Linked DNA regions of Homo sapiens. The protein of the gene in region 1 purifies or fractionates together with the protein of each later gene. This does not show direct contact. Each region holds a gene or a part of one and is shown in the gene's direction. Other genes may lie near its edges.

Region 1 (7,199 bases):
GCAGTGAGCCGAGATCACGCCACTACACTCCAGCCTGGGTGACAGAGCCAGACTCCGTCTCAAAAAAAAAAAAGGATTTCACTACCTGCTAAATTACTGAATCAAAGAAAACAAAGGCATGGTGTGGTATGCTGAATAATGCACAACCCTGCCCCCTCCGCCCCCCCAGCCAGATCTCCATTTCCTTATCTCTGTAACTGGTGAATATGTTACCTTACATGGCAAAAGGGACTTTGCAGATGTGATTAAATTAAGAATCTTGACATGGGGATATTATCCTGGATTAAAGGGGTGGGCCTGAGGCAATCAAACCAGTCCTTATACGAGGGATGAAGTAGGAGTCAAAGAGGAGGCCATGTGATGACTGAAGCAGAGATTGGAGTGATGTGGCCACCAGGGAAGGAGCCAAAGTATGTCTGCAGTAGGAGTTGGAAGAGGCAAAAGATGGAAGCCTGAAGCCCCCAGAAGCAATCAGACCTGCTGACACCTTGACTTTAGACCACTGATATTGGTTTTGGACTTCTGATGTCCAAAACTCTAAGATAATACATTTGTGTTGTCTTAAGCCACCAAGTTTGTGGTAACTTGTTACAGCAGTAATATGAAACTAATACACATGTCTACCATGTTGTACATGGGAATTCAATCAAACCAGCCACATCCATCAGACCAGGGCTCAGCAAACTGCAGCCAAATCTAACCTGCCATTATTTGTCTATGGCCTACAAACTAAGAATGGCTTTCTATATTCTTAAACGGTTGAAAAAAGTCAAAAGATTTAATAATATTATAATGTACATCAATGTTACCAGACTAAGCATTCATCACAATATTCCCAACTCAGAGGAGAGCAATGGCTAGTAAAATTTAAAATTTTAAGTAGAATATCTTATTATGGCAAAATTCATAATAAAACTAAAAAATAGGCCAGGCGCATTGGCTCATGCCTGTAATCCCAGCACTTTGGGAGGCTGAGGTGTGTGAATCATGAGGTCAGGAGTTCCAGGCCAGCTTGGCCAACATGGGAAAACCCCATCTCGGCCGGGCGTGGGGGATCACGCCTGTAATCCCAGCACTTTGGGAGGCCGAGGTGGGCGGATCACGAGGTCAGGAGATCGAGACCATCCTGTCTAACACAGTGAAACTTCATCTCTACTAAAAATACAAAAAATTTGCCGGGCGTGGTGGCGGGCGCCTGTAGTCCCAGCTACTCGGGAGGCTGAGGCAGGAGAATGGCGCGAACCCGGGAGGCGGAGCTTGCAGTGAGCCGAGATCGCACCACTGCACTCCAGCCTGGGCGACAGAGCGAGACTCCGTCTCAAAAAAAAAAAAAAAGAAAAAAAAAAAAAGAAAACCCCATCTCTACCAAAAATACAAAAAGTAGCTGAGTGTGGTGGCGCATGCCTGTAATCCCAGCTACTCAGGGGGCTGAGGCAGGAGAATTGCTTGAACCTGGGAGGTGGAGGTTGCAGTGAGCCGAGATCACGCCACCGCCCTCCAGCCTGGGCGAGAGAGCGAGACTCCATCCCCCGCCCCCCCCAAAAAGGAAAAAATAAAAATAAGCCTATAGTCAAAGTAAGTTTCTGAGTGGCTCCTTTGTTAGCCAACCAAGGAAAGTCATTTACTGATACTGAGCTAAATTGTGTTTGGCTGCAGAAGTCAAAGAAATAGGCTCAAGAAAAATAAAACTTGTGAAGACTATTCACCTTTCAGCAAGAACAGTGGCTCTAAGAGTTGAGGACATTGAAATCAACATCAAAACAAAAACAAACAAACAAAAAAGGGCAAGGCACGGTGGCTCACACCTGTAATCTCAGCACTTTGAAAGCCTGCAGCAGAAGGATTGCTTGAGCCCAACAGTTCAAGACTACCCTGGGCAACACAGCAAGACCTTGTCTCTACAAAAAAATTAAAAAAAAAATAGCCGATGTGGTGGTGTGCATGTGTGGTCCCAGCTACTAGGGAGGCTAAGGTGGGAGGATCACTTGAGCCCAGGAGTTTGAGGCTGCAGTGAGCTGTGATCATGCCACTGCACTCCAGCCTGGGTGACAGAGCAAGACCCTGTCTCAAAAACAAAAACAAAAACAAAGCAAATGATTTCAAGTGGTTTTCCTTGGCTCCTGATGAATGTTTACCAATATTACTCAGTTGTTGTTTTTTACTCAAGGAGTCAATGTTGACTTTAAAGTGACTGAAGAATTGGACCGGGCGTGGTGGCTCACGCCTGTAATCTCAGCACTTTGGGAGGCCGATGTGGGCAGATCACTTGAGGTGAGGAGTTTGAGATCAGCCTGACCAACATGGTGAAACCCTGCCTCTACTAAAAATACAAAAAAAAAAAAAAAAAAAAAAATTAGCCAGGCATGGTGGCATGTGCCTGTAATCCCAGTTACTCAGGAGGCTGAGGCAGGAGAGTTGATTGAACCTGGGCGGTGGAGGTTGCAGTGAGCCAAGATTGTGCCACTGCACTCCAGCCAGCCTGGGTGACAGAGCCAGACTCTGTCTCAAAAAAAAAAAAAAAAAAAAAAATTGGCCTGGGTGTATGGTCTTGTGTGGAACAACTGCAGATGAGAGTATTTCAAAGAAGTCAGGAAAACACTAATTCAATTCAGTCTAAAGCATAATTTGCTAAGATGTATTACAAATATGTATGGAGCAGAAAAGGTTTAGACAAATGTACAATACTTGTCAAAATGTAAGTTGTTTAAAATCCTGTAGTTATTAATTGTATTATTAAACAGCAGGTACTTTGCAACAAACAAACAAACAAACTTGAATCTGTCTTGTGTTATTCTTGACAGTAGTGTCAACAGTGAAGTTCAGCTGGGCGCGGTGGCTCACACCTGTAATCCCAGCACTTTGGGAGACCAAGGTGGGTGGATCACGAGGTCAGGAGTTCAAGATTTTAGAAAATTTGAATTTGAATTTGAATTCAAAATTTTAGAAAATTTTCTAAATGAGAAGAACCCCACCCTTGACCACTATTATTGAACATGAATAGTTTTAAAAAATGGCTTTTGCCATAGACTTAGTAATGTTCCTTAATGAATTTAACCTAAAATTACAAGGCAAAACAGTGTTTATACCTGAAACCTGTACTGCAGTAAAGTCATTCAATGACATCCCACATTGTTTGAATCACAAACAGTGTCAAGGTGCTTTAATCACTTCTCGTGCTGTCAAAAGTTAAAAATCCAGATTTATATTCCCACACAAATTTGCGGTGGAAGTATTCTTGTACATGAATGTTCATAGCAGCATTATCTATATAATAACCAAAAAGTGAAAACATCCCCGTTGTCTGCCAATTGATGAATGAACAAAATGTGATATATCCATATGATGAAATATTATTCAACCATAAAAAGGAAAGAAGTACTGTAACATGGATGAACCTTGAAAACATTATGGTAAATGAAAGAAGCCAGACAAATGGCCACATATTGTAGGATTCCATTTATATGAAATGTCCAGAATAGGCAAATCCATAGAGATAAAAAGTAGATTAGTGGTTGCCGTGGGCTGGGAAGGTGGGGGATGTGCGGGTCGTGGTGACTACTAATGGGTATAAGATTTCTTTTTGAGATGATGGAAATGTTCTGGAATTAGTGGTGATGGTTACACAACTTTGTGAATACACTAAAAAACACCCAATTACACATTTTAAAAGGGTGAATTTTATGTTACGTGAATTATATCAACTAAAAAATAAGATACCTAAAAAATTATGTACTCATCTGGAATAGTCATTAAAATCACAATCATATTTAGAAACACACCCAAATCAGTATCATATATATATATATATATATATAATATAAACTATATAATGCATAGTCCTTTATTTAGCTGGTCTTATATATACATATGTGTATATATACATATAAATGCATGCGTTATAGAAATGTAAAGAATTTATATAATATTAAGGGTGTTGTGAGAAAGCCCACCAATCTTCATTGAGAAGTGACTCCCAGATCACAGGAGTCCCAGCTAACTTGGCCAAGACAAAGTAGGTTCTGGGAGGCTCCAGGCGCACCCCCGTATATCTTAGCCTGATAGGACAGCCCGGAAGTTTATAAGACTTCTGCTAACACGTGACCAGCGTAGCCACAAGGAAAAGGTGCAAGGCGCACTCGTGACGTCATTTCGGGGCGACCCTCTTCTTGGCGTAGAGTTTTCAGATTGCTCTTGGGAATCATGCCGAAAGTAGTGTCTCGGTCAGTAGTCTGCTCTGACACTCGGGACCGGGAGGAATATGACGACGGCGAGAAGCCCCTCCATGTTTACTACTGTTTGTGCGGCCAGATGGTCCTAGTGCTGGGTGAGTAGCCGGGAACTGCGGGGGCGTCTGCAAGGAGCCAGACTTCGGGTTCTTGAAGGCGAATTTCCTCTGGCTGTGATCTGGGAGCCACTTCTCAACGAAGATTGGTGGGTTTTCTCTCTCCGACTAAATCCTCCCTACGCATCCCCGCCCCACTCCAGGGCATTTTTTTTTTTCCTGCTTTTTGTTTAGCCTTGTGACTCTGTATCCAGACCTTCCTCAAAACTAAACTCCTTCAGGAGAACAAAAATAGAAACACAAACATATTGTATTTCCCTCTTAATCCACTGTCTTCAAAAACTACTGCCTCTAGAAGCTTTATAACTTTTCTGCTGGATACCAAGATGCTGCAGTTGCTCTTACCTCACAGCAAACGAAAATAAAACCCTCCCTCGATCCTGTATTCCCCTCCAGCTATAACCCCATTTCGTTGCTTCTTTTATAGCAAAGCTTCTCAAAAGAGTTGCCTATATTGGCTGTCTCTGCATCCTGACTTCTAATTCTCTCCTGACCTCACTTCAGGTAGGCTTTCCTTCCCACCTCATCATCTTAACCGTATTTGGCTCCATGTTAACAGTTCTAGTGGTCAGTTATCAATGTTCATTTTAATTCTGTCAGTGGCATTTGACAGAGGTAATCATTTCATTCCTTTTGCAACATGTTTTTTATTTGCTTCCAAGACTCCATACTCACTTGATTTTCCTCCTACCTCGTATTTCCCCCCCCCCTTTTTTTTCAGATGGAGTCTCACTCTGCTGCCCAGGCTGGAGTGCAGTGGTGCAATCTCGGCTCACTGCAAGCTCTGCCTCCCGGATTCAAGTGATTCTCCTGCCTCAGCCTCCCGAGTAGCTGGGATTACAGGCGCCCGCCACCATGCCCGGCTAATTTTTGTGTTTTTAGTAGAGACGGGGGTTTCACTACGTTGGCCAGGCTGGTCTCGAACTCCTGACCTCGTGATCCACCCGCCTCGGCCTCCCAAGGTGCTGGGATTACAGGCGTGAGCCACCGCGCCCAGCCTTAGATTTTTCCCCTTGTCTGGCTCCCTTTTCTCTCTCAGACTTTTAGGCATTCCAAGGCCCTATAGCTCAGTACTCTCACCTGTTCTCACTCTGTACCCACCCCCTAGGTGATCTCATTCATTCCCAAGCTTTAAATACAACTGACATGCTGGTAACTCCCAGATGTTCATCTTTAACCTGCACCTCTCCTGAGACTCCAATTGCCTATTCAACATCTCCACTTGAATGTCTAATGGGCCTCTCAAATATATCGTGCTGAAAATTGAGTTCATGACCCTCTACACCCCCTCTCCAATTGCTCCTCTTATAGTCATCCCTATTGCAGTCAGTAGTACAACTATTCATCCAGTATCTCAGACCAAAACCTGGAATCAGTCTTGACTTCTGTCTGTCACGTACCTTACATCTGTCCAGTCCATCAGGAAATCCTGCAGGTGCTTTCGTGAAAATGTATGCAGGATCTGACTGCTTCTTACCACCTCCATTCCTTTTTCTTTTTGAGACAGAGGGAGTCTCACTCTGTCACCCAGGCTGGAGTGCTGTGGCGCGGTCTCAGCTCACTGCAACTTCCGCCTCCCAGGTTCAAGCGATTCTCCTGCCTCAGCCTCCCAAGTAGTGTGCGCCACCAGGCCCGGCTAGTTTTTTTTTTTTTCTTTTTTTTTTTGAGATGGAGTTTCGCTCTTCTTGCCCAGGCTGGAGTGCAGTGGTGCGATCTCGGCTCACTGCAACTTCCACCTCCCAGGTTCAAGCGATTCTCCTGCCTCAACCTCCCTAGTAGCTGGGATTACAGGCATGTGCCACCACGCCCGGCTAATTTTGTATTTTTAGTAGAGATGGGGTTTCACCATGTTGGCCAGACTGGTCTTGAACTCCTGACCTCAAGTGATCCACCCACCTAGGCCTCCCAAAGTGCTGGGATTACAGGCATGAGCCACCACGGCCGGCCTACCACCTCCACTTCTAACACTGTAGTCCAAGCTACTACCATCTTTCACCTGGATTGGCACAATAGTCTCTTGCTCTCGTTGCTTCCACTCTTTTCCACATAGTAGCCAGAGTCCTGTTCAAAACCAATGGTTTCATATAACACTGAGAATAAAACCAAAGTCCATCCATACCAAGACCCTTGATCAGGCCTGTGGCTACCTCTCAGGCTTCATTCCCTAACAGTCTTCCTCTTGCTCATCGCACTTCAGCCACAGTGGCCTTTTTGCTTTTTCTCCATCATGTCAAAAGTGTTCCTGCCCCCCAGTGCCTTTTTAATTGGTATTTCTTCTGCCCCAAAAACTTTTCCCTCAATCCCTCCCTTACTTCATTCAGGTCTCTGCTAAAATGTAATTTCCTTAGAGAACCCTTCCCTGATTACCTTATCTAAAACAGCATCCCTGTCACTTTGTCCTCTTACCCTGCTTAATATTTAGCACTTATCATTACCCAAAATCATATTATAATTATTTTAAAATATGTTGCCTCTTCCACTAGAATGTAAGCTTCATCAGGGCCGGAACTTTTTTTTTTTTTTTTTGAAACAGTGTCTAGCTCTTGTAGCCCAGGCTGGAGTGCAATGGTGCGATCTCACCTCACTGCAACCTCTGCCTCCCAGGTTCAAGTGATTCTCTTGAGTAGCTGGGATTACAGGCACCTGCCACCATGTCTGGCTAATTTTTTTTTTTTTTTTTGAGACGGAGTTTCGCTCTTGTTGCCCAGGCTGGAGTGCAGTGGCACCATCTCGGCTCACTGCACCCTCCGTCTCCTGGGTTCAAGCGATTCTCCTGCCTCAGCCTCCCGAGTAGCTGGGATTACAGGCATGCACCACCATGCTCAGCTAATTTTGTATTTTTTTAGTAGAGACAGGG
Region 2 (7,468 bases), on another chromosome or scaffold:
AGAAAGAAAGAAAGAAAGAAAGAAAGAGAGAGAGAGAGAGAGAAAGAAAGAAAGAAAGAAACGAAGGAAGGAAGGAAAAGAAAGAGGAAAGAAGGAAGGAAGGAAGAAGGGAAGGAAGGAAAGAAGGAAGGAAGGAAAGAAGGAAGGAGAGAGAAAGGAAGAAAAAAGGAAAAAAGGCACCATGTTGGGGAGAGAGTGTGCAAAAGAAAGGAACAAGCTTTTCTCCTGCTTTTTTGGAACAAAAGGTGGCCCACATTTTCATCCTGCACTGGGCCATGCAAAACATATAGCTGGCTGGCTCCATCGGATGGTGCCTGAATCTCAGAAGTGACAGTGTTGAGCTGCTGTTGGGGGCACCAATTAGGACAGGCTTTCAGGGGAGAGGCATGGTTTAGGGTCTTACAAATATGCAGACCTTTGGAGCCAGCAATTCCCCTTCACTGTCAGAGATGTGCATATGGATGTGTGAGCAAGGATGTTCACCACGGCATGATTCATAATAGAGACACCAGCTGGATGCCCAACAATGGGGGGAGGTCAAGGGCACAATCCATACTGAAGGATCAGGCACAGCCATTAAACATCATGTCATCAACGAGGACTTACTGACATGTGAAAAACTCATGACATTTGCAAAATGGGGAAAAAGTCAGCTACCAAGGAGTGTGCACCATAGGATCTCATTTGCATAGGCGTGCAGGGAATATATGCAGGAGAAAAATATTGAGCTGGTTTATCCTTAAATGCCAATAGCTGTTCTCCTCAGGTGGGTTATGTTTTCCTCTTCTGGGCCTGTTTTCCAACTGTCTGCACTGAGCACACATCACTGTCATCAGTGCACTGAGGTACTGTTGGGCAGTGGCCAAGGCTAGGGCTGCAGACACTGGAGGCAGACTCCCTGGGTTCAAAGCCCAGCTCTGCTCCTTACGAGTTCTGGGACCTTGAGCAAGGGATTTAACTTCTCCAGGACTCAGCTTCCCCATCTGCAAACAGGGAAAGTAATGATACCTTCCTCAAAGGATCAAGGTATTAACTCACCATGATAGGGTCATGGCTGATTGACTTGTTTGGCTGTCTTCCTAAAACCCCTGAAATTTTCTTCTTTATATCCCTGGCACCTACCACAGTGCCAGGCTTACAGCAGGTGTTCCTGAAAAGTCTGCTGAATGAACGAAGGAGGGAGTGCATGAATTCATGTAAGGATGGAGATCCACATCCCAGGGTACAGAGATAGTATCAAATGAGTTAATACATGCAGAGGGCTTACAGCACTGCCTAGTGCTTAGAAAACTGGAATTATCATTATGGCAAAGAAATTGTGTAAGAGGAAAATGTTGAGAGAACAATATGAACCAATTTTTTTGAATGATGTAGAAATGAGTGTTTGTTTTATTTTGTTTTGTTTTTGAGACAAGGTCTTGCTCTGTTACCCAGGCTGGAGTACAGTGGCACAACCACAGCTCACTGCAACCTCGACCTCGTGGGCTCAAGCAATCCTCCCACCTTAGCCTCCCAAGTAGCTGGGACTACAAATGCATGCAGCCATGACTGGCTGATGTTTAATTTTTTTTTGTACAGACGAGAGTCTTGCTATGTTGCCCAGGATGGTCTCGAACTCCTGAGCTCAAGTGATCCTTTTTCCTCCCAAAGTGCTGGAATTACCGGCATGAGCCACTACACATGGCTGTTTGGTTTTTTGTTTTGAACTTTTCTGTATTGAGAGTAGCTGAGTAAAGCATGCATTACTTTTATAATTTGGGAGGACACAAAACGTTACTGAAAGAAAAAGACTGAGAGAGTGGTTCACAAAGTGCTGTTGGGGAACGCAGGGTGAAGCCAAGTTAGCCGAGTCCACACCGTTTTCATGTCAAGGTCATGTGTGGATGAGCTTGTCTTAGGCCCTTACTCCGGCCCCCATACACCAGGTTGCACGTCTTCTCATTCATGATGAACACAACACCCGGAAGGCCGATGTTCATGCTGAGTTATAGGCTCTACAGCGAAATCTCTTGTTAGATAAATAGATAGATAGATAGATAGATAGCATAGATACCCATATATAGAGGTGCATGTATCCATTTATCTATATAAGAGTTATAGGCTCTTAAAATATCTACAGCTAAATCTCTTGTTAGACAGATAAATAGATATGATAGATACCCATATATAGAGGGGCATGTATCTATTTATCTACCTATATCTATTTATCAAGAGAATCTTTAACTCTAGCTGTAAAAAAGAATATGTCCAACTCTTGGTGCTCCGTGTATTGCCCCAACACAGTACTCACCACGCTAGGACCATTGCTGATTGACTTGTTTTCCTGTCTTCCTAAGAGCCCTGAAAGTTTCTTCTTTGTATCCCTGGCACCTACTACAGTGCCGGCCACACAGCAGGTGTTCCTGAAAAGTCTGTTGGATGAATGAGAGGCAGTGCATGAATTCATGTCAGAACAGAGATCCATCCACATGTCGGTATGGAGACAGAATAACAGGAGGATTAGCTTTGTCTGGGGTAGGGACAGGTCCAGGAAGGGTCAAAGACAGGCAAGTAAGGCTTGGCAGGGTGAATGTGTACAGTCCCCAAAGAAAAGGGGAGAGAGAGAGAGAGAGATGGGGGACAGCAATCCAGTCAGTGAGAACATCATTTAAAGATCCTTGGCTCACACCTGTAATCCCAGCACTTTGGGAGCCTGAGGCAGGCAGATCACCCGAGGTCAGCAGTTTGAGACCATCCTGGCCAATATGGTGAACCCCATCTCTACTAAAAATACAAAAATTAGCCAGGCGTGGTGGTGGGCGCCTGTAATCCCAGCTACTCAGGAGGCTGAGGCAGGAGAATCGCTTGAATCCAGGAAGTGGAGATTTCAGTGAGTTGAGATTGAGCCGTTGCACTCTAGCCGGGGTGACAGAAAGACTCTGTCTCAAAAAAATAAATAACCATCCCGGCTAACACGGTGAAACCCCGTCTCTACTAAAAATACAAAAAATTAGCCGGGCGAGGTGGTGGACGCCTGTAGTCCCAGCTACTTGGGAGGCTGAGGCAGGAGAATGGCGTGAACCCGGGAGGCGGAGCTTGCAGTGAGCCGAGATCCCGCCACTGCACTCCAGCCTGGGCGACAGAGCGAGACTCCGTCTCAAAAAAAAAAAGAAAAAAAATAAATAAATAAATAAATAAAATAAATAAATAAATAATTAAAAAATAAAGATCCTGTAAGTGGGCTGGGTGTGCTGGCTCACACATGTCATCCCAGCACTTTGGGATACCGAGGCACGAGGATCGCTTGAGCCCAGGGGTTCAAGACCAGCTTGGACAACAAACTGAAACCCTGTCTCTATAAAAATCAAAGAAAAAAAAATAGCCAGGTGTGGCAGCCGGCACCTGTGGTCTCAGCTGCATGAAAGACTGAGGCAGGAGGATCACTTGAGCCTGGGAGGTGGAGGCTGTAGTGAGCACTACACAAAAGAAATCGCTGATCCTTCAGCAGCCATTTCCCACTCCAGCAACTCCCCGCCCCTGGCAACCACTCATCTACTTTCTGTCTCTATGGATTGGCTTGTTCCGGACATTTCACATACACGGAATCATACAGTGTGTGGTCTTTTGTGTCTGGCTTCTTTCACTAAGTATTACATCTCCAAGGTTCATCCCGCTGTAGCATGAGCGAAGTGTGACAATTGATAGATGGATCGATGAAGGTTACATTCATTCATTCCATACACATTTACTGAGCACCTACTGTGTGCCAGTCTTGGCGACGACCCAGTCAGGAATAGAACTAACAGTAAACCCTGCCCTGGAGGGCTTCTGGTAGGGAGGAGAGACAATAAACCGAATAAACTAGTACATTATTTGGAATATTAGACGCTGATAAGAGCTCAAGTGAAGCATGGGGTTGGAAGTTGGGTGCAGAGAGAGGGGCTGTGACTTCGAGCAGAGCGGTCAGCAAAGGCCTCGCCGCAGGGTGGCCGCAGGGACGCTCCCGCTCAGCCCGGAAGGAGGCGAGAGGCGCGGTGCCCGTCCCGGCGACTCTGGGCCAGCAAAGAGCTCCCAGCGCACGCGTCGGTGCCTCGAGGCCCGGGACCCTGCGTGTCTGGTCCCCGCCGTGGCCCTGCGTCCGTGACGGTGGGTGGCACCAGGGAGCATTTCGCGCGGCGGGGCTGGGGCCTGCCTTTGAAGGGACGGAGTCGGGCGTCGTGGTGGGGTGGACACCGGGGATCCCCGGGGCGCGGACGAGGGGGGCGTCCACCCTGCGAGCTCACCCCACGGCCCCCGCGTCCCGCCCTCAGCCGCAGGCCCCGCCCCGCGCCGCCCGGCCCCGCCTCCCCGCGGCCGCCGCCATTGGCCGCGCGCGCCGCCTCCGCCCTCGGCCTCGCACTTCCTGGCGGAGCCATGGCTGCGCAGCGGGCTGGCCGGGGGTCTCCTGAACCCGGGCCCCGCCGCCCCGACCGCCCGGCCCCGCCGCCGGGGCTGTCCCCGCCGCGTCCGTAGCGCGTCCTGCCAGGTGGGCCTCCGCGCGCGCCCACCCTCCAGCCCGGGACCGCCAGGAAGCCGCGCCCGGCCGGGGCGGGGAGCTGGCGGAGATCGGGAGGGTCCCCGGCCACCGCGAGCCGCGACCCCCCTGCGCCCCTTGGTGCCGGGGCGGGCGGGTGGGCGAGTGGGGGCGCCGCGGCCGGGGGAGGGGCCGCCGCCCCCGCAGGTGACACAGGTGCGGCCTGTGCGGACCGCCCCGCGCGTGGCAGGTGAGTGGCCCCCGCCCCGGGCCGTCCCGACTCCGCCTCCTCGCCGCCGGCTGGAGCCTGCTGGGCGGCCGTTGCGCTGAGTTCCGCCTGGGCTGCGGGGTCCGAGCGAACGACAGCGGCGTCCCCGGAGACCCCGCCGGCGAGCCGGTGTCAGCAGCGTCGCTTTCTCCAACGCTGAGGTCGGGAGGGAGCTTGGGGAGGAGGCGCTCTGGGAAACCCCCGGCCGGACGGGGCCTGCGGTCCCATGTTTACTGGAAGACCTTTTCCAGTGACCTGGGATTGTCACTGTGCTTGGGGGTGGCCTTGACCCTTCACCTGCTTCCAAAAAGCGTCGGAGGCCGCTGACGTCCAACACGGGTGGAAATCAGACCCCACCCCCACGCACTTGCAGGAGACAGCAGGGAGCCTCCGGCCCCGCGAACTCTCTCTAGGTATCTTGGCCTAGAAAATAAAGCGTTGAGCGTTAGAAGGCCTGGTTGATTCTGGGCAGGCTGCCTGGGGCGGTGGAGAGAGAGGGCACCTGCTGCTTGCTGTTCTGTGACCTTGGGCAACCCCCCCTGGGGCACCCGAGCGCCAGGTCTCACTGTGGGAACGACGGTGTCACCTCTCAGCGTGAAGGTGGAATGAAGTCGAGTCCGCGGTGGGCACCGCACCAACGCTGGGTTTCTTCTCTTCCCTCTCTGGGCTCTCCAGCATCCTAGGGGAGGGCCGGGGTGGGAACAGCTTGTCATTGTCACAAAGTTTCTAGTTTGTCGAGAGGAATCCAGTTGCCCCTTCTCTCCCTAGGGGAGTTGCACGGGACGGACTGTGCCCGAATTCATTCCTTCCATGGGAACACTGGAGTGCCCTCCCTGTGTCCCCAGTTATCTAAGAACAGTGCTGACTTCTTGTCACATTGTTCTTTATTAGTGAAGACTATTTGTTCAATAGGTAACAAACTCTTCTCATGAACTCAAATAGCGGGGGAAAAAAATCCTCTTTAAAACCTTCGTCTCAGTATGTGACTTGTGCTAATATTAGTTGGCAAAGTCCCTTCTCTGTGTTCCCTTCCATCTTTGAAGCACCTGCCCCTCCCCCTGCCTCCCCCGCCCCCCACACACCAAAGCTTAACTCTGTCTGCAGTGATCCCCCACCCAAGAGCCAGGCAGTGTAGCCTAAGAGTTAAGAGCATGGGCGCTTCCCTGAGCTGGAATCCCAATTCTGCCAGTTCCCAGCTGTGTGACGCCGGGCAGCTTATTTCACCTCACTGCTCTCAGCATCCTCCAGTCACAGTGCTGGCCTCATGGGGTTGCAGTGGGGACTAAGTGAAGATGCAGAGAAGCACTTGGGGACAGTGTGTGTCTAGAATGTACTGTGTACATGGTAGTCATCACTGTACCACATCCTCATCTGCATCATGATATTTTTAAAGTGTGATACTCTCGAACCCGGGCCTCATTCAGCAGCGTGTCATGGTGATGGATCCAGGTTTTGAAGCTGGACAGACCGAGGCGTGATTCTCGGCCGTTTACTAGCTTTGTGACCATGAGATCAATATCCTCATCTGTGAAATGAAATAAGTGATATCAGCCTGGCCAAGTATAATCTTTGTGGGGGTTAAATGAGATGGCACACTTAAGTCACTTAGCTTGGTTCGAGGGCTGTAGTCTGGGCTCCGAAATGATAACTTATCATTATAACCTTGATGTAGCCAAAAGGTAATTATTTGTAGGAAGTGAACCAAATGACATGATATCAGATTTTAGATGATAAAGGAATGGGAGTTAAATGTTCTGTCCAATTCTAACAACCCGATGATTTCTCAACTCGGTGTAAAAGAGTTCTTTGTAGTGCACGGTCCTCCCTCCCTCCTTCTTCCGTGTGACTGTTTTCACTGTCATCCTTGGTATCTGCTAGCAGGGCCTGAAATTAATGAATGACCTAGAGTTATGACTGCATGCTCAGAAATCCTGTTCTTCTCCTAGGGCTGAAATCTCTTTAATGATGGAGGGAAGCAGGCAGACGCGAGTGTCTCGGCCATACAAGATCAGCGAATCATCAAAGGTCTGTGAATGTTCACTCACCACCTATGCAAATTGCCTAAGAAGTGTGATCCTTTTTCTGATTCACTCATTTCTAATCACAGACTGATTTTTTTGTCATTGGTGTTGTCAGTCTCCTTAATGACAAGTAAAGGTGGAAACGGGCAAGGAGCAGAAATTGTCATAAAATCAGACAGTGGGAAGTATGAGGGATGGTAGAGACGCTATGGCCAGATGTCTTCATTTTTCCATGTGACATTCCGGAGCTTTCTTTTTGTGACAACTTGACTCATTCGTTAACCCAAGGAGGTGGATGGGACAGGAAGAAAACTGGGATTCCCATGCCTGCTTGGGGGCTCAAAAACTCCAAGGACAGGTCCATTGAGAACCCAGCCTTCTACCTTAGGGTGAGGGCAACACACCGTGTACCCGGACCCCAAGGGCCTGGAGTCGTCTTCCCTGGTCATGATTCCCTGCGACCTAAGAGCAAGTGAGGGCAAGTTCCCCAGAGCCAGGCTACTGGGGGAGTTCTAATTAGAAATATGTAGCCTGTTCCCACCAGCCACATTAAAATCCAAGAGCCAGACCCGGCTGCTATACTTTCCACAAACTCCTGTCCCCACAGCTGCTGTTGGTAAAGAGTGGGGGAGCCATTGGTATGAGGTTCCTGGTAACCTGTTTCCCCGTTATAAATATTCGTAATGC
Region 3 (7,639 bases), on another chromosome or scaffold:
AGGCACCCCCCGGGGAGGCAGGGGCAGAGGTCAGAAGGGGTGTCTGGGACCTGGATGGCCAGCAGGGACAGGGGCATTGTCATCTCAAAGGCCCAACCCCCAGAGGCCACACCAGTCCTCCCAGGGAGTCCTCGAGTCGCCCTGCCCAGAGCCCTGGCACCAGAGACGCCAAGAGCCTGTGGGGTGACTCGGAGCAGCAGGTGTGGCCCCGGGCGGGCGGCACCGCGTCCAGGGCAGCCTCCCTCCGCTGAGTGACACGGGACACCAGTGCCCGGCCGACGCGCCTTTGCAGGAGAAATGTGCAAACCTCTGTGGATACCATTTCATTTCCATTCTTGTGTTGTCTCCAAGGCCCTTTTGGAGATATACTTGGTGTTGGTTGTGTTTTTTGGTTCCTTTTCAGAGAACTGTAAACCGAGGCTGACGTGCTCCACTGACTGTGCCGAGGGGCGGGGGCAGGAGGACGGCAAGACCTATTTATAATATTTAGCGAACTCGGTCTCCCTCAGATCCCCCGCGAGGGAGGCTGCTGGACCCACCCCGCTGTCCCCCATGATAGAAGTCTGTAAATACCTTGGTGACCAATGCCCACTTCCCCTCCTGGGTCACCTCTGATGGCTGCTGTCCACTGAGAACGTGGGCAGTGTCCAAATTCCTGTACTGTAAAGACTAAAAGGCGTTTGCTCTGAGACTGACAAGGCGGAAACTTCCATGTGTCTCCTGCCAGGCTCTGTCCCCCTACGCCATCCCGACACGTCCCCGTTCCCCCGAAACCTGGCTCAGTGCAATACTCCCATTGCCATGGGGTCCTTCACCATGGTACTGTCTCCACAGCCCTCAGTCCCCACCCCAGGAGAGGCGCCTGCCACCTCCTCCTCATCTCCGGTGGTTCAATCGCTCCGCCTGTCCCCAACCCAGTCCCATTTTTATGGCCAAACTGATTCTGAAACAAAATGAAACTGCAAACCTCGTGTGTCTTAACTCCCCCCAGGGATGCCACTCCATTCCTCCGCCCCGTGGTCTGGTGCGTGACAATCCAAAGCGCCGAGACGAGGGTGCTGTGTCCCTCAAACCCAGAGTGGTGGGCGCCTCTGAAACCATACAGCCACTCCTGGCCCCAAACACTGGTTTGCATCCCAGGTTCCTCGCCCACCTACCCCCGCCACACCCCGTCTTTTTAGAGATCTCTCTAATAAATCGGGTAATAAGCATCCGCCTGTTTGCCTTTCTGTGGGTTCCGGAGGTCTGGTTGGGAGTCTGAGGAGTGACTTTGTTCTGTGTTTTTTGTTTTCTGTTTTTGTTTGTTTGTTTGTTTTCTTTTTAAGAGATGGAGTCTCGCTCTCCACCCAGGCTGGAGTGCAGTGGCGCAATCTCAGCTCACTGCAAGCTCCGTCTCCTGGGTTCACACCATTCTCCTGCCTCAGCCTCCTGAGTAGCTGGGACTACAGGCGCCCGCCACCACGCCCAGCTAATTTTTTATTTTTAGTAGAGGCAGGGTTTCACCATGTTAGCCAGGATGGTCTCGATCTCCTGACCTCGTGATCCGCCCACCTCGGCCTCCCAAAGTGCTGGGATTACAGGTGTGAGCCACCGCACCCAGCCTGTGTTTTGTTTTTTTTTTTTTTGAGATGGAGTCTCGTTCTGTTGCCCAGGCTGGAGCGCAGTGGAGTGATCTCAGCTCACTGCAACCTCTGCCTCCCGGGTTCAAGCCATTCTCCTGCCTCAGCCTCCCGAGTAGCTGGGACCACAGGCGCCCGCCACCACACCTGGCTAATTTTTTTGTATTTTTAGTAGAGACGGGGTTTCACCACATTGGCCAGGCTGGTCTCAAACTCCTGACCTCAAAGGACCCACCCGCCTCATCCCAAAGTGCTGAGATTACAGGCGTAAGCCACCGTGCCTGGCCTGAGGACTGACTTTGAATCTTAGAGAAGAGAGAAACCTTTGTGAGATTGATGCTGATACCAGTAATAGGACCCAAACACCTTACCAGCTGTGAACCTTCTTCAGGTCCCAGTTCAGCTCAGAAAACATTTTATTGTTTCCAACATCTTTGCAGCCCCCCAAAGTTTGTATTTGTTCTGCTAGAGCGGTTCCAATTCAGTCACGTTTGGACCCCTTGAAGGGAACACATTTATCTTGGACTCCCAGGTTGAGAAACTACATTGAAAACAAGATCCTGGCCAGGCGTGATGGCTCACACCTGTAATCCCAGCTACTCGGGAGGCTGAGGCCAGAGAATTGCTCCAACCTGGGAGGCAGAGTTTGCAGTGAGCTGAGATCATGCCCCTGCACTCCAGCCTGGGCGACAGAGCAAGAAAATGTCTCAAAAAAAAAAAAAAAAAAAAAGTAAGATCCTGTCTGTAAGGGAGCCGTTGGAACGTTTCAGCACAGCTGTTTTATAAACTGAACATGGAGGTGATCTCGTTGTTTTAAGTTTGTTTTTTGTTTTTTTGTTTTTTTTTTTTGAGATGGAGTCTCGCTCTGTCACCCAGGCTGGAATGCAATGGTACGATCTCAGCTCACTGCAACCTCCGCCTCCCAGGTTCAAGCAATTCTTCCTCGGCCTCCTGAGTAGCTGGGACTACAGGTGCCTGGCACTACACCCGGCTAAATTTTGTATTTTTAGTAGAGGTGGGGTTTCACCATGTTGACAAGGCTGGTCTCGAACTCCTGAACTCAGGTGATCCACCCACCTTGGCCTCTCAAAGTGCTGGGATTACAGGACTGAGCCACCGCGCCCGGCCCATGCAAGTGATCTCTTAATGTGCTGCAAGGATGCATCTGAATTTTGGGAAGCACAGGGTCAGGCCTTCGCTTTGTTTTGGGCCATCCCATCAGCATGACAACCCACATCTCAGGACCGGCAAGGTCATCATCTAGAGCGGCAGGAGATGGTCTCTTCTTCCTCTGTAAGGTTCCATCCTTGCCTTAACACCAAGCAAAGCATACAAAGCCAGCGTTTACGGGGATGTTATGAAGTTGTATTCCAAGATAAACGTTTTATTTATTTATTTATTTATTTATTTATTTATTTGAGACGGGGACTTGCTCTGTCGCCCAGGTTGGAGTGCAATGATGCGATCTCAACTCACAGGAACCTCTGCCTCCTGGGTTCAAGCGATTCTTCTGCCTCAGCCTCCCGAGTAGCTGGAATTACAAGCATGCCACCATGCCCAGCTAATTTTTGTATTTTTAGTAGAGACGGGGTTTCGCCATGTTGGACAGGCTGGTCTCGAACTCCTGACCTCAAGATCCACCTGCCACGGCCTCCCAAAGTGTTGGGATTACAGGCATGAGCCACTGCACCCCACTCAAGATAAACATTTTAATTTTCTTTTTTTTTTTGAGACGGAGTCTTGCTCTATCGCCGAGGCCATAGCGCAGTGGCACGATCTCGGCTCACTGCGACCTCCGCCTCCCAGGTTCAAGCAATTCTCCCTGCCTCAACCTCCCAAGTAGCTGGGATCACAGGTGCATGCCACCACACCCGGCTAATTTTTGTATTATTTAGTAGAGATAGGGTTTCACCATATTGGCCAGGCTGGTCTTGAACTCCCGACCTCAGGTGATCCGCCCGCCTCGGCCTCTCAAAGTGCTGGGGTTACAGGCGTGAGCCACCGTGCCCGGCCAAGATAAATATTTTAAAAGTTAGCTTAAATTACTATCATCCTCCATAAACAGGCCTTCCCAGCCCCGAGTGGTTAGAACTGCACGGGGTGGTGGTAGCAGCCACCATGGGCTAGGGGAGCTCAGGATGGGACATCAGCGTCTTCTAGGTCTCTGGCCTCCAGCCTTGCCCCTGAAGTCCGTCCTCCCACGCCAAACTTGTTTCAACAGCAAGTCCCCCAAACCCTGCTCACAACCCTCCCACGGGTCCCCAGCACCCACACCACAAAGCTGGGCAGCCTGGGTTGAGAAGGCAAGTGTTAAGAGTGACTTTCCCTCTCTGAGCCTCAGTTTCCCCGTCTCTAAAATGGGTTGATGGGGGAATACAGGGAGTTATCAAAGTTTTTGTTTTTTTTTAAAGCTTAACTCCCAAAATACATAGGTGTTCATTGGCAGGTGGTGGAGCATAACGATGACTCTCATAAGAAGGCTTTTCAGTTTCTGTCCCCGCGCCCGCCCTCTGCCCTCTGGAGCTGCCTGGCACCTAACACCTTCCCGGTTCCTCGCCTTTCGGGGACCTCGCTCCCCGGACACGCCTCTCCTCGGCCACGCCCCTGGCCACGCCAATGAAGCGCTACTTCCGACCTAGACCCGCTTCTTATTGGTCTCGCCTCGGCAGGCCCCTCCCTGCACAAGGTTCCTAGTTTGCCCTTGCCCCGCCCACAGTTTCTCAGGCCCCCTGAGGCGTGGGGACCCGCCTAGGGCTGCCTCCAGCACTGCCTGAAAGGAGACTCCGCCACCCTGGAGGCAACAATCCCACTGGAGTCAATCACGCGGTCCACATTTGCAGACGTAGTGGAAAGTCTGGGGTGTCGGAGTCCTTGCGGGCTGGGGCGACGGGATGGGTTGCTCTTTCCCGGCTCAGGCGCAAACGGGGCAGCCTGGAGAGCGCCGTGGGCGAGGAAGGCCCCCAGCGCAGGCTTCGGCTATTGGTGTTGGTGCCGCGGCCACTGGCCCAGCCGATGGGTCGGGACACACGCTCGCGCTCGCGGTCCGCGGGTCGCCGGGGCCGAAGGCGGCAGAGTCAGAGCGGGAGCCGAAGTCGGAGCAGGAGCCATGGGCGGCGAAACCGACGGCGCCGGGAGGACGAGGGACGGCGCAGACGGAGGCGGCGGAGCCGGGAGCGCAGGTGGGGTCGCTGCGGGAGCAGCGCTGGGGATCCGGCTCCTACCTCAGGAGCGCCCGACCGAGGGTTGGAGATCCCGGGGAACCGGGAAACCCCCGACTTACTCGGGGAGGGCTTCCTAGAGAAGGGGACAATTGACCACCGGTTGGAATTAACCTGGCAGCGGAAGGAAGGCGAGAGGCGTTCCAGGCAGGGGACCGGGCGGTTGGAGGGACAGCCCGGAGCCGGGTGAGCGAGGCGGCGGGGAGGTAACGAGAGATCAGATCATATCATATCGAGCCCTGTGTGCTCAGCACATTAGATCTTGGCTATTAGTCGGAGGGAAATGGAGAGTCTTGAGAGGAGTTTGGGTAGGGGAGTGACGTGGACTGACTTAACTCTGCATACTTTCTGGCTTTGAGGTGGAGAAGGGATGGAGCGGGGTAGGCAGGAGCGGCATCAGAGTAGGACGGCACAATTGTCCAGACAGTAGATGATGGCAGTCTCGATGGGAGGGAGGCTGTAGTCAACCACAGCGGGCAAAGTGCGTAGATTTCAGAGGGATTCTGGAAGTAGAGGAGACAACATTTGCTAATGGAGGTGGGCTGTGGGAGGGAAAAAGACTCGGTGTCAGCTGGCAGGACTCACAGCTGATTCCTAGTGCCTGAATCTCAGCTTCCCCATGGTCCTTTTCTTCTGGAGATGGGGCACTTGGTCGGATTTGCCTTGAGCCGGCTCCAGTACAGAGAAACCAAAATGGGGACAGGGACTGATTCCCAGACCGGGGCCCCAGTGCTGGCTCAGCCCCTTCGTGGCTGACACTCAGGCCAGTCTTGCCCCGCTCTGGGCCAAGTTCACTCATCGGTTGTTGGTTTTTTTGTTTGTTTGTTTTTGAGACGGAGTCTTGCTCTGTCGCCCAGGCTGGGGTGCAGTGGCACGATCTCGGCTGTTACCTCTGCCTCCTGGGTTCAAGCGATTCTTCAGCCTCAGCCTCCCCGGTAGCTGGGGTTACAGGTGCTTGTTGCCACACCCAGCTAATTTTTGAATTTTTTCGTAGAGCTGGGATTTCTCCATATTGGCCAGGCAGGTCTTGAACTCCTGGCCTCAAGTGATCTGCCCGCCTCGGCCTCCCAAAGTGCTGGGATTACAGGCGTGAGCCACCGCGCCTGCCCATAAGTCTTGTTAATGTCATCTTTGTGTTTTTTCGCCTACCATTTTCTGGTATTGGAATTATTCACAATAATTTGCCACTCTAGATATGTAATTAGAATTAATGTTCACGAAAATTCAGTTGAACTTGTGGCCAATATTTAAGGGCTCTGCAATGATTGGTTTCAACATAGTTTAGATTTTTTTGACATGAGCTTAATGGGTAGAGCATTTAACAAAATATTTGGCAGTTCTCTGTGTACAAAGACCCCTAAACGTGACTGAGCGCAGTGGCTCACATCTGTAATCCCAACACTTTGGGAGGCTGAGACAGGAGGCTTGCCTGAGCCCAGGAGTTCAAGACCAGCCTGGGCAACATAGCAAGACCCCTCTGTACAAAAAAATGTAAAGAGTTACCTGGGCGTGGTGGTGTGTGCCTGTAGTCCCCGCTACTCAGGAGGCTGAGGCGAGAGGATGGCTTGAGCCCAGGAGGTCAAGGCTGCAGTGAGCTCTGATCATGCACTCCAGCCTGTGTGACAGAGGGAGACTCTGTCTCTAATAAATAAAAATATAGACCTTGTCTCTAGTAGACTCTGTGTCTAGTAGACCTTGTCTCTAATAAATAAAATTAAAGGCCCCTGAACCACCCCTGAGGTTGTGCATCTTCCATTCCCTGCGCTCTACTCTGTTAACTCCTGTCCATCCTGTGGGACTAGTTCAAATACCACTTCCATCTAGGAAGCCCTCCCTTGACAGCCTAAATGTGTTCGGGTCCCCTGGTTCGTACCCTTATAATTCCTGCGCCACCAGCCCCAGCCACCTCCCTGCCCGCGCCTCCTCCCTCTCCCCCACACTCTGTCTCAGCCATACAGCCTCCTTGTTGTTCTTAGAATGTGGCAGGTCAGTGCCTGCCTCTAGGCCCTCGCTCTTGCTCTGCCTCGAGCACTCTCCCTCCGAATCCACCCATCGCTGCCTCCCCACTCCCTCCAGACCTTGGCTCAGTGTCAGCTCCTGAGAGAGCCCCTCTCTGACCTCGGCCCTGCAGCCCCAGCCCCTGTGCTCGGCATTGCTACTCTTTGTGGCTTCTGCCTCTGCCTAGTGTTGCGTGGTGTGTTTATTTGTTGATGTCTTCCTTGTTGGGGCCCACCAGAGGGTGAGCCCAGGAAGGCAGAAGCCATCGGTATTTGGGTCACTGCTGTGTCCCCAGAACCTAGAACAGTGCCTGCTCCCCCACGGGCACCCAGTAAGCATCTGTGGAGCAGATGACAGCTGCAGGCACTGAGCAGGCATCCATGGTCCTCTCCGCAGGTCAGATTCAGAGGAAGAGCGGTGGCAGCGCTCAGGGATGCGAAGCCGGAGCCCCCCGCGGCCCAAGTGGCACTCAAGAGATGGGTCCTCTCAGTCGGACTCAGGAGAGGAGCAGTCACGGGGCCAGTGGGCTCGCCGGCGACGGCGCGCACGCTCGTGGTCTCCTAGCTCCTCAGCATCCAGCTCCGCGTCTCCAGGGCGATCCCAGAGCCCCCGGGCGGCCGCGGCTGCCCTGAGCCAGCAGCAGAGCCTGCAGGAGCGGCTGCGGCTGCGGGAGGAGCGGAAGCAGCAGGAGGAGCTGATGAAGGCCTTCGAGACGCCCGAGGAGAAGCGCGCACGGCGGCTGGCCAAGAAGGAGGCCAAGGAGCGCAAGAAGCGGGAGAAGATGGGCTGGGGTGAGGAGTACAT

Evidence for each region.
Region 2: the proteins of STEEP1 (region 1) and KLHL36 purify together in Homo sapiens (affinity purification with mass spectrometry; 3 studies listed by BioGRID and IntAct, with this or other methods). This does not show direct contact.
Region 3: the proteins of STEEP1 (region 1) and CACTIN purify together in Homo sapiens (affinity purification with mass spectrometry; 3 studies listed by BioGRID and IntAct, with this or other methods). This does not show direct contact.

The regions. Positions count from the first base shown.
Region 1 is NC_000023.11:119,562,357-119,569,555, reverse strand, and holds the start of STEEP1 (STING ER exit protein), read left to right. Parts: upstream 1-4,146; 5' UTR 4,147-4,200; coding exon 4,201-4,324; exon of another isoform or gene 4,325-4,431; intron 4,432-7,199.
Region 2 is NC_000016.10:84,644,146-84,651,613, forward strand, and holds the start of KLHL36 (kelch-like protein 36), read left to right. Parts: upstream 1-4,365; 5' UTR 4,366-4,504; exon of another isoform or gene 4,505-4,742; intron 4,743-4,794; exon of another isoform or gene 4,795-4,921; intron 4,922-5,057; exon of another isoform or gene 5,058-5,183; intron 5,184-5,262; exon of another isoform or gene 5,263-5,434; intron 5,435-6,706; 5' UTR 6,707-6,722; coding exon 6,723-6,785; intron 6,786-7,468.
Region 3 is NC_000019.10:3,623,755-3,631,393, reverse strand, and holds the start of CACTIN (splicing factor Cactin), read left to right. Parts: upstream 1-4,603; 5' UTR 4,604-4,631; coding exon 4,632-4,798; intron 4,799-7,231; coding exon 7,232-7,639. UniProt on the Homo sapiens protein: Plays a role in pre-mRNA splicing by facilitating excision of a subset of introns. Required for the splicing of CDCA5/Sororin, a regulator of sister chromatid cohesion. Involved in the regulation of innate immune response.